Regions from separate parts of the Homo sapiens genome. Here region 2 is linked to region 1. Evidence: fine-mapped expression QTL. Tissue or cell type: whole blood. Region 1 holds a variant in brackets; the other region holds the start of a gene. All regions are shown on one strand. Distances are between the middles of the regions.

What was found. PIP is the estimated chance that this variant, and not a neighbour inherited with it, causes the effect.
Region 2: TMEM134 starts here. The variant in region 1 is fine-mapped to the expression of TMEM134 in whole blood (TOPMed, PIP above 0.99).

The regions. Positions count from the first base shown.
Region 1 is chr11:67,218,826-67,226,825 of GRCh38, reverse strand. It overlaps KDM2A (lysine demethylase 2A), which reads right to left. Exons shown (of 21, transcript NM_012308.3): 10 at 7,423-7,538. LOC124902839 (small nucleolar RNA U13) reads right to left here and starts at 5,918; the gene lies at 5,810-5,918. RefSeq lists an enhancer at 3,689-4,568. The variant C/T (reference allele first, on the strand shown) is at 3,865.
Region 2 is chr11:67,464,386-67,472,499 of GRCh38, reverse strand. It overlaps TMEM134 (transmembrane protein 134), which reads left to right and starts at 3,249. Exons shown (of 7, transcript NM_025124.4): 1 at 3,249-3,481; 2 at 4,408-4,472; 3 at 4,910-4,999; 4 at 5,112-5,188; 5 at 7,400-7,444; 6 at 7,644-7,697; 7 at 7,804-8,114. The coding sequence starts at 3,308. The coding sequence ends at 7,886. RefSeq lists enhancers at 2,845-3,024, 3,013-3,637 and silencers at 3,175-3,314, 3,525-3,664.

The DNA.
Region 1 (8,000 bases):
CTTTTAGAAAATAAAAGAGCAGCTCGCGGCCAGTGCTCATTTAATTTTACATAAACATGCTCTTTGATGCTGAAGGAAATCTGATTGATTTTCGTTTGTTTTTTGAGACGGAGTCTTGCTCTGTTGCCCAGGCTGGAGTGCAGTGGCGCGATCTCGGCTCACTGCAAGCTCCACCTCCCGGGTTCACACCATTCTCCTGCCTCAGCCTCCTGAGTAGCTGGTACTACAAGCGCCCGCCACCACGCCCGGCTAATTTTTTGTATTTTTAGTAGAGACGGGGTTTCACCATGTTAGCCAGGATGGTCTCGATCTCCTGACCTCGTGATCTGCCCGCCTTGGCCTCCCAAAGTTCTGGGATTACAGGCGTGAGCCACTGCGCCTGGCTGGAAATCTGATTGATTTTCAAGGTGAACATAAAATATAAAAACTGTCTTTGGAGTTATTTCTAAACAAAACTAACAGCAGGATGGTCTGAATCATCAGGATTGTCTATTTCAGAAAAATCAGATCCATCAAATGAATCTCTGGCCAACAACTGTTCATGAATGATATATTATTATTTTTTTTTTGAGATGGAATCTCGCTCTGTCACCAAGGCTAGTGTGCAGTGGTGGGATCTCGGCTCACTGCAACCTCCACCTCCTGGGTTCAAGCAATTCTCCTGCCTCAGCCTCCTGAGCAGCTGGGATTATAGGTGTGTGCCCCTACACCTGGCTAATTGTTATTTTAAATTTATTTATTTATTTATTTTTACTCTTTTTTGACACAGTTTTGTTCTTGTTGCCCAGGCTGGACTGCAATGGTGCAATCTTGGCTCACTGCAACCTCCACCTCCTGGGTTCAAGCGATTCTCCTGCCTCAGCCTCCCAAGTAGCTGGGATTACAGGTGTGCACCACCATGACCAGCTAATTTTTATGTTTTTAGTAGAGACGGGGTTTCACCATCTTGGCCAGGCTGGTCTCGAACTCCTGACCTCAGGTGATCCACCTGCCTCAGCCTCCCAAAGTGCTGGGATTACAGGCATGAGCCACCGTGCCCAGCTATTTATTTATTTAGAGACAGAGTTTTGTGCTTATTGCCCAGGCTAGAGTCCAGTGGTGTGATCTCGGCTCACCGCAACCTGTGCCTCTGAGTTCAAGCGATTTTCCTGCCTCAGCCTCCCGAGTAGCTGGGATTACAGGCATGCGCCACCACACCTGGCTAATTTTGTATTTTTAGTAGAAACACGCCTTCTCCATGTTGGTCAGACTGGTTTCGAACTCCCAACGTCAGGTGATCCACCCACCTCGGCCTCCCAAAGTGCTGGGATTACAGGCGTGAGCCAGCGTGACTGGCCAATTGTTGTATTTTTAGTAGAGACGGGGTTTCACCATGTTGGCCAGGTTGGTCTCGAACTCCTGAACTCCAGTGATTCGCCCGCCTCAGCCTCCCAAAGTGCTGGCATTACAGGCATAAGCCACCACGCCTGCCCAAGAATGATGTTAACATCACGCATAGGAATGCTATGTTTTCTAGGATTTGACATTTTCAGCAATCAAGAATAACTATATTTTGTAAGTAGAAATACCACTACTAAAAACAGAATGCTATAAATAGAATGATATCTTTTGTTTTCAAAGTCAGTATACTAGAGTGATGTGAAAATAATAAAAGCGAGATAGTTCGTGGCAAAGTTATCTTGGGGTAAATGCTGCAGCCGCCGGGCGTGATGGCTCACACCTGTAATCCCAGCGCTTTGGGAGGCCAAGGCAAGTGGATCACCTGAGGTCAAGAGTTCGAGACCAGCCTGCTGAAACCCCGTCTCTACTAGAAATACAAAAATTAGCGTGGTGGTGCATACCTGTAATCCCAGCTACTCGGGATGCCTGGGCAGGAGAATTGTTTGAACCTGGGAGGTGGAGGTTGCAGTGAGCTGAGATCACACCACTGCACTCCAGCTTGGACAACAGCAGCGAAACTCTGTCTCCAAAAAAAAAAAAAAAAAAAAAAAAAAAAATGCTGCAGCTGCCAAGTGCCCCTGGTGAGTATCATTGGGGAAAATGAGAAAGGGATTAATTTTGGCCGGACAAGATAGCTCAAGCCTGCAATCCCAGCACTTTGGGAGGCTGAGGTGGGTGGATCATGAGGTCAGGAGATCAAGGCCATCCTGGCTAACACAGTGAAACCCCATCTCTACTAAAAATATAAAAATTGGCCGGGCTTGGTGGCGGGTGCCTGTAGCCCCAGCTACTCGGGAGGCTGAGGCAGGAGAATGGTGTGAACCCAGGAGGCGGAGCTTGCAGAGTGAGCTGAGATCGCACCACTGCACTCCAGCCTGGGGGACAGAGCGAGACTCTGTCTCAAAAAAAAAAAAAAAAAAAAAAGAAAGGGGTTAATTTTTGGTACGGACAGGGTCTCACTATGTTGTCCAGGCTGGTCTTAAACTCCTGGGATTAAGTGATCCTTCGCTTCAAACTCCCAAAAAGTACTTGGGATTATAGGCATGAACCACCATATCTGGCCATACAGCTTTCTTTTAGAGAGGCCATATTTCAAAAGGATAAGCCAAATGATACTGTTTTGAATATGCAGCTCCTGAGAATGTTCCCATCTCCTCCCATATTGTAGGGATGACTTCACCTACCCGTTTACAAACTCTATATCGGGTAGTGTTCCTGAATCACGGAGAACTGGATAGGAGTCCCTTTTCAAAAACCTTCACCAGGCCACAGGGCATCACTGGGGAATAAGGAGATCACTCTCCCCATGGCAAGGCAGGAGAGGAGATGTACTTTTCATAGTTAGCCCCAATCAGTTTTCTAATGCATAGTAGCCAGACCCTGATTCTGGTTTCTTATGTGGCTAAAACTTTTAACAACTAAAAGAATGACTCTCTTACACGGAAGTAAAATTAATTTATTTCTGACTAAGGGAGACAGAGGAGAGAGACAACAACCAATAGGTATTTGGTCCCTCAAAATTAAATATAATACACTACGCCTCTCCATTAGCCTTTTAAGTATAGCAACACTTTCTGGAAGGGTTTTTATTAGGAGTTCAGGACAACTCCAAATTCTAAAGCCCTCTGGAAATCAGTTGAAAGCTGAGTAATAATGACAGTTTAAAAAAAAGAAGAGTCTGGGCATAGTGGCTCATGCCCGTGGTCCCAAGGCTTTGGGGGCCTGAGGCTGGAGGACTGCTTGAGCCCAGGAGTTTGAGACGAGCCTGGGCAGCATAGTAAAACCTCGTTTCTACAAAAAAATAAAAATAAAAAAACTAGCCAGGTGTGGTGGTGTGCGTCTGTGGTCCCAGCTACTCAGGAGGCTGAGGCAGAAGGATCACTTGAGCCTACGAGGTTGAGGCTGCAATGAGCTGAGATCATGCTACTGCACTCCAGCCTGGGTGACAGAGTGAGACCCTGTGTCAAAAATAAATAAATAAATAAATAAATAAATAAGAAAGAAAAAAGGAAGAAAATATGAAATACAGGCATTAAAATTTTGAGTTTTTACTCGTAACTTATAAGACTGTATTAATTATAGCCAAGAGATACCACATACCCAACCTGACCCCATTGCTTTTTACTTATGCCGCATATCAATTTCTAAGACTGGGTTAGCATTTTTTGGAAATAATTTTTTTTTTTTTTTTTTGAGATGGAGTTTCATTCTTGTCGCCCAGGCTGGAGTGCAATGGCACGATCTTGGCTCACTGCAACCTCCGCCTCCCAGGTTCAAGCGATTTTCCTGCCTCAGCCTCCTGAGTAGCTGGGATTACAGGCATGTGCCACCACGCCTGGCTAATTTTGTATTTTTAGTAGAGACAGGGTTTCTTCATGTTGCTCACGCTGGTCTCAACTTCCTGACCTCAGGTAATCTGCCTGC[C/T]TAGCCTCCCAAAGTGTTGGGATTACAGGTGTGAGCCACTGTGCCTGGCCTTTTTTTTTTTTCCCCCTTATTTTTCTTCTCTTTACGTAGAAAACTCTTCATGCAGGGGATAAGGTACTCACTTTATGTTACTGAATATGTATTTTCCTTTTCTTCCCTGAAACTGAACCAGTGTATAAGACCCAGGTGTAAGAGTCATCTTTAACCATAAAAAGGGAACACATTCTAAAAACCAATTTTCAGACTGAATCTTAGAATGGGTACATAATTACCTCTAAGAATGACAGAGTTTTGAGGGGCGCCTCTGCCCGGCCGCCCCTACTGGGAAGTGAGGAGCCCCTCTGCCCGGCCACCACCCCGTCTGGGAGGTGTGCCCAACAGCTCATTGAGAACGGGCCAGGATGACAATGGCGGCTTTGTGGAATAGAAAGGCAGGAAAGGTGGGGAAAAGATTGAGAAATCGGATGGTTGCCGTGTCTGTGTAGAAAGAAGTAGACATGGGAGACTTTTCATTTTGTTCTGCACTAAGAAAAATTCCTCTGCCTTGGGATCCTGTTGATCTGTGACCTTACCCCCAACCCTGTGCTCTCTGAAACATGTGCTGTGTCCACTCAGGGTTAAATGGATTAAGGGCGGTGCAAGATGTGCTTTGTTAAACAGATGCTTGAAGGCAGCATGCTCGTTAAGAGTCATCACCAATCCCTAATCTCAAGTAATCAGGGACACAAACACTGCGGAAGGCCGCAGGGTCCTCTGCCTAGGAAAACCAGAGACCTTTGTTCACTTGTTTATCTGCTGACCTTCCCTCCACTATTGTCCCATGACCCTGCCAAATCCCCCTCTGTGAGAAACACCCAAGAATTATCAATAAAAAAATAAATTAAAAAAAAAAAAAAAAAAAAGAATGACAGAGTTAAACAGGAGTATTTTACTATGGAATTATACATTTTTTTTCTTTTGAAACATTTTCCCTATTTTAGAATATTTACCTATTTTAGAATAGACATCTTTTTTTTTTTTAAATTAACAGACTGTGTCTCACTCTTCCACCCAGGCTGGAGTACAGTGGCACCAACATAGCTCACTGCAACCTGGAACTCCTAGGTTCAAGCAATCCTCTCACCTCAGCCTCCCCAGTAGCTAGGATTACAGGCATGCACCACCACACCCGGCTTTGTTGCCCAGGAGAGTCTCAAACTCCTTGCTTCACATAATCCTCCCACTTTGGGCTCTCAAAGGGTTGGAATTACAGGTATGAGCCCCTGTGCCTGAACTGTACTTTTGTTACTCTTAACAAATAAAAAGAAATGTACTTTTATAAAATGTGTTGAAGAAGCACTGGCTTCCTCTCTTAATTCTACTAGTAGGGCAATTCCTGTAACTCCAACAATAATATCAATGATGTGTATAGTGATACGTAACTCCTACACCAAAATAAATGTTGCAAAATAGGCACCATAATGGTTGACTATTATTGCAGTACATAGGTCAGTGACCATTCCTATAATATATAAAAGACCATTCATATAAAAGTTGTGAATTCTTCATTAATTGTTATTTTAAAATTTTTAATACTTTTAATTCTACCAAAAAGTTTCAAGAGCAGTAGCATTAATAGTTCTACACTCTTCTCTGCAATTCTCCAACTGTTAACATTTCTCCACATCTGCTCATCTCCATACTAGCTTAGTATTCTGCTAAGCTACTTGAGAGTAACTTACAAACATCACAACCCCCAAATATTCTAATTGCTGTTTAATCCCAGTATCATCTATACTTTCATATATGATTCAGCCCTTACCAATTAGAATTCTGCTAAAAAATAAGCTCTCATTCTCTAAGGTGGAGGCTAGCCAGCAAACAACACTTAGTGGATTTGGCCTGCTGCCTCTTTTTATGATTCCTGTGAACTAGGAGTGTTTTTTACCTTTTTTTTTTTTTTTCGGGTCAGACAGGTAATGTGCTGACGTATTAATAGTAACAAGGTTCAAGGGTGGCATCTTTCACATACGTGCATGAACACCTAATCATGATCATGAACTATATAAAAGGATCGTTTTTTACATTTTTTAATGGTTGAAAAAAATTTAAGAGTATTCTGTGACATGTTAAAGTTATCTGAAATTCAACTTTCAGTGTCTATGAATAAAATTTTATATTATTTGAGCCACACTCATTTGTTTAAGTATTTCATGCTACAAGGTAGGGTTAAACAGTTACAATAGACACTTTATGACCCACGAAGCCTAAAATATTTACTATCTGGTCCTTTGCAGGAAAAGTTTGTCAACTCTTGCCTTAAGGTATCCATTGTATATAATAAATTAACTTTTTTCTATGCATCTAGAAGGGTATTAGCTGTGTATCATCCTAGAGAAAAATGAGAAAATAAGATACACAAATTATTTTATTTTGGGCTTAATTCTCTCTTGAAACCCCAGTTGAGAAAGACAGTATATACATTTATATAATTAAAGTAAGATGCTTTGAGTATAGTCATCAGTGTAGAAAAAGATACATGAATTTAAAGTTCTGAAATTTGGGTTGATAAGCCCCATTACACCAAATTATTCTGTGAGCATAAAAATGAAACACATGGCTCAAGAGATTACCAGAGGTAAATGTCTGGCCTTATAAAAATCCAAGATACTGTGGGATGCAGTAGCTCACACTTGTAATCCCAGCACTTTAGGAGGCCAAAGCGGGCAGATCACTTGAGCCCAGGAGTTCAAGACAAGCCTGGGCAACACAGCAAAAACCCATCTCCAAAAAATACAAAAAAATTAGCTGCATGTGGTGGCGTGTGCCTGTAGTCCCAGCTACCTGGGAGGCTGAGGTGGGAGGATCAACTGAGCCCAGGGAGGTTGAGGCTGCAGTGAGCCATGACTGTGACACTGCACACCAGCCTGGGCAACAGAGTGAGACTCTGTCCCAAATATTAAAAGAAAAAAATGTTACTTTTTCCCATTCACTATGGTGTTGGCTAAAAAATAAAATAAAATAAAATAAAATTTTAAAAAAAGGAAAGAAAAAGAAATCCAAGATACCAAAAACCTCACAGAATTGGAGTCCCTAAAACGGAGTATGTAAATCGTGTTAAAATTTTTATTTGGCCAGTCGCAGTGGCTCACACCTGTAATCCCAGCACTTTGGGAGGCTGAGGTGGGAGGACTGCTTGAACCAGGAGTTCTAGACCAGCCTGGGCAACGCAGTGAGACCAAGTCTCTACGAAAAAAATTAAAAATTAGTCAGATGTGGTGTGCACCCACGGTCCCAGCTACTTGGGAGGCTGAGGCAGGAAGATGCTTGAGCCTGGGAGGTTGAGGCTGCAATCATCCATGATCACGCCACTGCACTCTAGCCTGGAAAACAGAACAAGATTCTGCCTTAAAAAAAAAAAAATTAAATTTAAAATTTTGTGTGTTCCCAAAATGTCAACACTGCATTTTAACTGAAAGAAAAATGGAAGTTTTGATAAACCATCAGTGAATCTCTTGTAACATCTATCATAACTGGAGTAAACCTCTTCACATGCAACTGTTACATAAGATTACTTACCCGTGTCCGATCTTCAATGTTGTATATTTTTAACTGCATAGGGATGTTGAAGCTATGCAAAAAATTGCCCCCAAACACTAATGTGTCTGTAGGAGTATACACAGCATGAATCCAGCCTAGGAGAAGGGGAACAGAGGGCAGTGGCTGAAAACACACATTACAGTAAGTCTCTCTCAGAGAACTAGTACAAGACCCCTAGATCACACTCTTCACTCTGATTCTGCTTCTTAGTGGTTTGTCAAGTTACTTAATCTCTCAAAGCCTCAATTTCCTCTATAAAACCAGGATAAATAATACCTCTTATGGTTGCTCATGAGCATTAAATGAGAAAATGCACATCAAATGCTTAGCACATAATAAACGTTTACTGGAGCACCAACTATAAACCAGGCTCTGTACAAGATAGTTTACAATTCAGGGGTGTCCAATCTTTTGGCTTCCCTGGGCCACACTGGAAGAAGAATTGCTTGGGCAACACATAAAATACGCTAACATGACCTGGCGCGGGGGCTCACGCCTATAATCCCAGCACTCTGGGAGGCTGAGGCGGGTGGATCACGAGGTCAGGAGTTCAAGAC
Region 2 (8,114 bases), 250 kb before region 1:
TTTAAGTTGCTGTCTAACACCACCAGCTCACCCTTGAATTCTTTCCCAGGTGAAGCCAAGCACTCTCTTGGGCTAAGCCCCAATTTTGGGGATCACCTGCCCTGCATCAGCCTTGCTACGCTGAGGCTGATCTTGAATTCCTGGCCTCAAGTGATCCTCCTGCCTCAGCTTCCCCAAAGTGCTGGGATTACAGACATGAGCCACTGCACCCAGCCTGAAAAGGAGTGATTATTCTTTGAGAGCATGTTAGACAAAGAGTCAAAGACAGACAGATAGGAAATATGTGCAAGGTCATAAACCAGCAAGGAATTAATGATTAGATATGTTGATATGCAAATTAGTGGAAAAAGGCTAGAAACCCAATAGCAAAAAGAAAGACCAAAGATATGAAAAGCCAGTTCACAGACAAGGGACACCCAATGGCTGACAAGGGCACAAAGAGCAGCTCAAACTCTCCAGCCATCAGAGAACCCAGAGGAACATGAGGTACCACTTTAAATTCATCAGATCGGCAAGCCATTAAAAAGTTGGATGGTACCAAGTCCTGAGAGAACCAGAAGCCTCAGGTGGAGTGTCAACTCTCACAGCCACTCAGGAGAGCATCTGTGGTACCCTGTGAAGTCATGAGTGCGTGTGCCCTATAACCTGGAAATCCTACCCCAAGGGGAATTCTCCCACAGTCCATAAGGGGACAGCAGGAAGATGTTAACTGCAGTGATGCCTGTGATGGCGGGGTTGAGGCCAGTTTGAGTGTACAACACTGTGGAGGTGAGGTGGATCATAAAGGTGCTAGACACTCAACATGGTACAACATGCATGTAGCCTGTAGAAACAATAAACAAATGCATATGGAAAACAGCATCGAGAGCAAAAATGTAAACGTGTAAGTAACAGAACTGAATTTTCTGCATGACATCATGTTTGTAAATTGCAAACACATCCACATAGGAGACAGTGCCATACATGGTACAGAGCCAGGCAGGCTTTAAGGACGCCGACTGAGCATGCTGACATGGGTCTGATGGAAGGCAGGGGAGAGGAAGGAACCTGGGAAGTGAAAGAGGGTAAGTGAATTAACATAACTCGAGAGGGGCCTTATTCATAGTGTTGATGTGTAACAAACAGAAGTAGACTTGACTCAGCTCTGTACATGAGGCCATAAAATGAACATGAGGCCGGGTGTGGTGGCTCATACCCAGCACCTTGGGAGGCCGAGGTGGGCAGATCACGCCTGTAATCCTAGCTACAGGGGAGGCTGAGGCAGGAGAATCGCTTGAACCCAGGGGGCGGAGGTTGCAGCAAGCCGAGATCTTGCCACTGCACTCCAGCCCGGGTGACGGTGCGAGACTCTGTCTCAAAAATAATAATAATAATAATAATAATAATAAGGCAGGGCACTGTGGCTCATGCCTGTAATCCCAGCCTCCTCGGGAGGCTGAGGCAGGAGAATCACTTGAACCCAGGAGGTGGAGGTTGCAGTGAGCTGAGATCGCACTCCAGCTTGGGCAACAGAGCGAGACCCTGTGTCGAAAAAAACAAAAACAAAAAAGAACTCTTGACTAAGGTCCATAAAGCTCTCAAGGCTCTGGGGCCCATCTACTCCTCCCAGGCTCATCAAGTCGGCCTGCCCCTTTCCTTGCTGCTCAGCCACACTGGTTTTCTCACATTCTTCCTCCACAGGCCAAGCTCCTTCCCACCTCCTGGCCTTTGAACGTGCTGTTCCCTGGTGCCAGGAAAACACTGAACCTTGCTTTTCTCACAGCTGGCTCCTTCATCATCGGCATTCCTGCTCAAATGTCACCTCTTGGAAAGGTCATCTTTGAGTACGAAATCTAAAGTCAGTTTTGCATCACACAGCACTTGAAACTGTCTCATTTTGCACTGTTTTATTCACCACTGTATCTATAGTGCCCAAAACAGTGTTTGGCCCTAAATAGATGCTTAATAAATACTTGTGGCAGAAATGAATGAGGGGTTTGCCAAAGTCCCAAGTACTTACAAGTGGTAGAATGGGGATTTGAAACCAGGTCCACCTAATTCATAGAGTACTTCTGCTCTTCCACCCCCACCGCCCCCCACCACGGTTCATTTTTTTTTTATGGAGTCTTGCTCTGTTGCCCAGGCTGGAGTGCAGTGGTGTGATCTCCACTCACTACAACCTCTGCCTCCAGGGTACAAGCGATTCTCCTGCCTCAGCCTCCCAAGTAGCTGGGATTACAGGCACTGGTCACCGTGCCCAGCTAATTTTTGTATTTTTAGTAGAGACTGGGTTTCACCATGTTGGCCAGGCTGGTCTCAAACTCCTGACCTCAAGTGATCCACTCTCCTTGGCCTCCCAAAGTGTGAGCCACCGTGCCCTGCCAAGAGTTCAGATTTTATTCTAAGTGCAATGGAAAACCAAGGGAAGGTTTTTTTGTTTGTTTTGTTTTGTTTTTTGAGACGGAGTCTTGCTCTGTCGCCCAGGCTGGAGTGCAGTGGCTCAATCTCGGCTCACTGCAACATCTGCCTCCCGGGTTCAAGCAATTCTTCTGCCTCAGCCTCCCAAGTAGCTGGGACTATAGGCATGCACTACCACGCCCGGCTAATTTTTGTATTTTTAGTAAAGACGGGGTTTCGCCTTTTGGCCAGGCTGGTCTTGAACTCCTGACCTCAAGTGATCCACCCGCCTCGGCCTCCCAAAGTGCTGGGATTACAGGAGTGAGCCACCGAGCCAGGCCAGCAGCAAAATTTTTAAAAAGGGTTTTCAGAATAACACACGCAGATAAAAAGATTTGTTTTAAAAGATCACTTCGGCTGCTGCGTGGAGACTGACTGGAAATTGGAAGACACATAAGCTCTCTGAGCCTCGGTTTCCACATTTGCAAAAATGGGGAGAGCACCCCTCCGGTGCGGGGCTGTTGTGAGTAAGGTGGGGAAACAGTTCCCAGGAGTCTCCTTGGCACTCGAGGAACAGGCTGCGGTGCAAAAGGCCCTGTCAGGGACCTGGAGGTTGGGGCGTGGAAGCCCCTCCAAGCCCCCGCACATACACGCCTGGGGGATGTGTCCGAGCCCGGCACGGGCTGTCGCTTGCCATGGCGGCCACTGAGTGGCGTCACGGGGCGGGCGCGCTCCGTCTGGAAGAGGCTCCCACCCATCAGCCCGCTCAGGGCTCGGCAACTCTGGCCTGCTTAGGGCGGACGGGGGCGGGACCGGCGCGTGGGGCGGAGCCAGGGTCGGAGGGGCGGGGCATGCGGGGGCGGGGCAGCGGCGACGCTGGGTGTGTGGGCGCAGATGGCGGCGGCGCACGGCGCCTGAGCGGGCCGGGGCCATGAGCGCCGCCCGGCCCCAGTTCAGCATTGATGATGCCTTCGAGCTGTCCCTGGAGGACGGGGGCCCTGGGCCCGAGTCCAGCGGGGTCGCGCGCTTTGGGCCGCTGCACTTCGAGCGTCGGGCCCGGTTCGAGGTGGCTGACGAGGACAAGCAGTCCCGGCTGCGCTACCAGGTGAACCGCCCGGCCCACCTAACCCCCTGCCCCCGGCCGGACGGGACCCCAGGCCGGGCCCCAAAGGCCTCAACTCGGGGAAGCATCTGCCTAGAGGCCCCAGCTGAAGCGCGAGACCGCCCCCCCGCCCCGCGGACGTGACTCTTGATCCAGAGCCCTGCCCAGGCCCTCCCGGTTCCCATACCGGGCCCCAGCCAGCCGGGAAGAGCCCAGTGCCCGGGCCCGGGAGCTCATCCCTCAGCTCCAGCTGGGGAACCCAACCGGATTCCCCACTCATCCTGGCTACTCGCACCTGGCCCCCGCTGGGTTGGGGGAGCTCCTCTGTATCTGAACCAGACCTTGCCCCACACGCAGGAGCATCCCCTGTGCCCCAGGCCAGCTAAGCTGATGGGAACCCGCACGCCTTTCTCTATTCTGAAAGCCCTCTCCCTAATCCCACCACCACCCCTAAGAGCTGGAGCTCCTCTCACATGACCAGTCCTTGCCCACCCTTTGGCTCCCACTAAACCAGAAAAACCCATTTTCCCAGAAAACCTCCACCAACCCTAGGCTGCTTTTCTTGGAGACCTGGACCAGAACCCTGTGCCTTGAACCTGGGAACTCTGGGCCTGGCCTTTCCTGGCACCCCAATTCCCAAGCTCCCATTCTAGGCCACTGAATGAGAGCTCCACCCTAACCCAAAGTTGGGAGCTCTCCTTTCCCTGGGATCTATGCAGGCTCCTGCTCCCCAAAGCCCTGGCATCCACCCACCTCCTACCTGGTTTCTGTGAATCACCAAACCCGTTCTGCGGGGAGGGCAGAGGGCCAGGTGAACAGCTGCCAGGCGGCCAGGCAAATGGTTGTGTAGGCCTGCTTTTCTCTTCCCGGGAGGGAGTGAGGAAGGGCCCCAGCCCAGCAACCCCCCTGAGACCTGTGTTCTGCAACAGAACCTGGAGAACGATGAGGATGGAGCCCAGGCCTCTCCGGAGCCGGATGGGGGAGTCGGCACCAGGTTAGGGCCAGGTGGGGACCCAACCCTGTACCCCAGCCCCAGCTCCTATCCCCAGGGACCCTGCTCAGTCACCCACCCCACTTCACTCACTCTCTTCCATCCCGTCCTATTGATTCCTAGCCTGACCCTCACTTTCCTCACAGGGTCTCCTACACTGTAGGGTCACCCTACCCTAGTGCCCAGCTGTACTCACCTCTTTCAGAAACCCCCAGTCTGGTCTGGCCCCCACCTTCATACAGGTCACCTGTCCTACAGAATCCCCTAGCTCATCCCCAGCCCCTGAATTCATGCTCACCCACCGAGGCCTCTCAGGGCCCACTATCCTGCAAGGGGCCAGCCCCAGTCCCTGCACCATGCCCTGCACTTCATCAGGACTCCTGTCCCAAAGCAACCCCGTCCTTGCCTCCCTGCCCCTCACTGGGCGCCTGTCCTGGCAGGGATTCCAGCCGAACTTCCATCCGCAGCTCCCAGTGGTCCTTCAGCACCATCAGCAGCAGCACCCAGCGCTCCTACAACACCTGCTGCAGGTGAGCCTGCCCGCCTAAGCCCCCAGCCGAGCAGCCCTGGCTCCACCCCCACAGCCTCCTGCACCCCCTCCCTCCACCTCCTTCACATTCACCCTGCTCTCCTGCCACCCAGCTGGACCCAACACCCTTTGATCCAGAAGAACCGCCGAGTGGTGCTGGCCTCCTTCCTGCTCCTGCTGCTGGGGCTGGGTGAGTGGCCCTGAGGGTTGGGGTCAAGAGGGGCCCCGTGGGAGGCTCTGCCCTCCTTTTGTACAGGCTCTGCCTCCCCCTTGACACTGAGCCTCCCAGCATCCTGAGGAGGCAGCTGGCTGCCATCATCACACTCCCATTTTACAGGTGAGGAGACAGAGGCCTTGTGACCTGGGCACACAGCCAGGAAATCACACATAGCTGAAAATGGAACCTGGCTTATCACTGCAAAGACTTTTCCTTTTTTAAAAAATTTAACCTGTTTAAATCCATTAGAGGACAGAAGAGTAGCAGCTACCATTTATTCTGTGTCTACTCTGGGCAAGGTGCAGGGCAGTTTTATTTTCCCATCTTACAGAAGTCCTACAAGTGAGGTGGTGCCCAGAAGCCACGTGTAGGGGCTCAGGGATGCCGAGTGCCCAGCCAGTGCAGAGCCGCAGGGCACCTGGCACTTCCCCTTGTCTGGCATCTAAGCACTGACAAGCACCCCTCTCCTACCCATTGCTCAGATGGGGGAACTTTTGGTCCAGAGCAGGCAGATCTCACACCAGGTGTTCTTTGGCTCCCAGGCACCTCGTTCTTTGGGGTAGAGGAGGCAGAGTCCCCAGAAAGGATCCAGGGTTGGGGTCACGAGTGATCCATAAGAAGGGACTAACTGTGGCTGCTACCCTGGCTCATCTCTCCGCTTCTCCAGGAAGGCCAAGGCTCCCCAGCCAGCCAGGCCCCTGGCACAGAGTCTGGCCTCTGCTCAGGGTGTTTGAGTGTGGGGGAGGGGGCTGCCACTTCCCAGCACCGCTGTACACTGGCCCTGGTAGTGCTGCCAAGTTCTTTCATTTTTCCCCTCAACCCAGCAAGGCAAGCCTGGGGCTACCAGAGCGCCTTAGAGGGCCTTTGTAGGGTGCAGGGAGTGAGTTTCAGCCCCCATCATACCCTATACCCCTTTATTTTTATTTATTTATTTTTTGAGGAGGAGTCTTGCTCTGTCGCCCAGGCAGGAGTGTAGTGGCGCAATCTCGGCTCACTGCAACCTCTGCCTCCTGGGTTCAAGGGATTTTCATGCCTTAGCCTCCAGAGTAGCTGGGATTACAGGCGCGCGCCACCACACCTGGCTAATTTTTTGTATTTTTTTAGTAGAGATGGGGTTTCACCATGTTGGCCTCAGGTGATCCACCCACCTCAGCTTCCCAAAGTGTTGGGATTACAGGCGTGAGCCACCACGCCCAGCCCTTTTTATTTTTTAGAGACAGGGTCTTGTTCTGTTGCCCAAGCTGGAGAGCTGTGGTATGATCACTGCAGCCTCAAACTCTTGGACTCAAGCCATCCTCCCAGCTGAGCCTCCCTAGTAGCTGGGACTACAGGCATGTACCACCATGCTCAGCTAATTTTTTTTTTTTTAAAATAATAATAGAGACAAGGTCTCACTATGTTGCCCAGGCTGGTCTTGAACTCCTGAACTCAAGTGATCCTCCTGCCTCAGCCTCCCAAAGTGCTAGGATTACAGCCATGAGTCACCACGCCTGGGCTGGGCTAATTTTTTTTTAACCTTTTATAGAGATGGGGATCTTGGTATGTTGCCCAGGCTGGCTTCAAACTCCTGGCCTCAAGCGATCTTCCTGCCTTGGCTCCCTGAAGCACTGGGATTACAGGCATGAGCCACCACACCTGGCCCACCCTTTTTGAAGTAGTCTGGGCAATGCACAAAGCAGTCCATGGTGGCCCCCCAGTCCCCCAGGCTTACTACCCCCCTTGTTGCAGAGCCCAAAGTCCAGCTCCTCATTCCCCCATCACTCTTCTAACTGGGGACCCAGGACTCCTGCACTGCCCTGTTCTTACCCCCTATATCCCAATCACCTGTACTGTTAGCTTTCAGGTTCTTATTGGTTCCTCCACTAAGGACGGGCCATGAGGGCAGGGACCTTATCTGCCCTTCAGGGCGGAATTCCCAGTACCAGGCACGCAGTAGGTGTTCCATAAATGTTTGCTGAATGACTAAAAGCCCACCCCAAGGAACAAAGAAAAATCTCTCCTTTCACACACTTCCCAGGGCCTGCTCAGTGCCTTGCTCTGGAAACAGAGCTTGGTGAGCTTCCTGGGGAGGGTCTCTGCCTAGGGCACCTTCAGCTCAGGTGGTGGGTGAGCCGGGCTGGGGGTGGGAGCCCCCGCCCTCACCACTGCTCCTGCCCCCACCCCCGCGGCTCCGTCTGTGTGCAGTGCTGATCCTGGTCGGCGTGGGACTGGAGGCGACCCCCTCTCCAGGTGAGCGACCCTCCCGCCCCCACAGGCAGAGGACACCCCTGTCTTGTGTCCACGGGTCCACGGCAAGCCCTCCCACCTCCCGGCAGTACACGGCTCCTTTTCAGCTGGGAGTGAGGCTTGCCCGGGCAGTCAGCGGCAGCCCGGAAGGCCTCGAAGCCTCCGCCCCCTCGCCCTGACCGGGCTCTGGTCCCTCCCGCAGGTGTCTCCAGCGCCATCTTCTTCGTGCCGGGCTTCCTGTTGTTGGTGCCTGGAGGTGCGAGCGGGCACCGGGGCGGAAGGGGCGGGGGCTGTGGGGCGGCACTGGGGGCGGTGTTGCGGGGAGGGGCGGGGCTTCTGCGCTGACAGGCCCCGCCCCGCAGTCTATCACGTGATCTTCATCTACTGCGCGGTCAAGGGCCACCGGGGCTTCCAGTTCTTCTACCTGCCCTACTTCGAGAAGTGATCGCGGCGCAGCGTGGACCCCTTGCGCCCATGGGGGCGCCCCTCTTGCCCTGTTCCGTTCCCCTCATCTCAAGGGAAGAGGCCCTCCAGGACCCTCGAAACCCCAGCCCCTAGGGAGTTTGCTCAGGAAGTTCGGGGCATGCAGGCCTGGCCCTGGGAAAGCCGCCCGTCGCCTGCTCTGTGCCTTAACTTATTCTCGGGCCGTGCGGCTGCTAGGTTGCTGTTATTT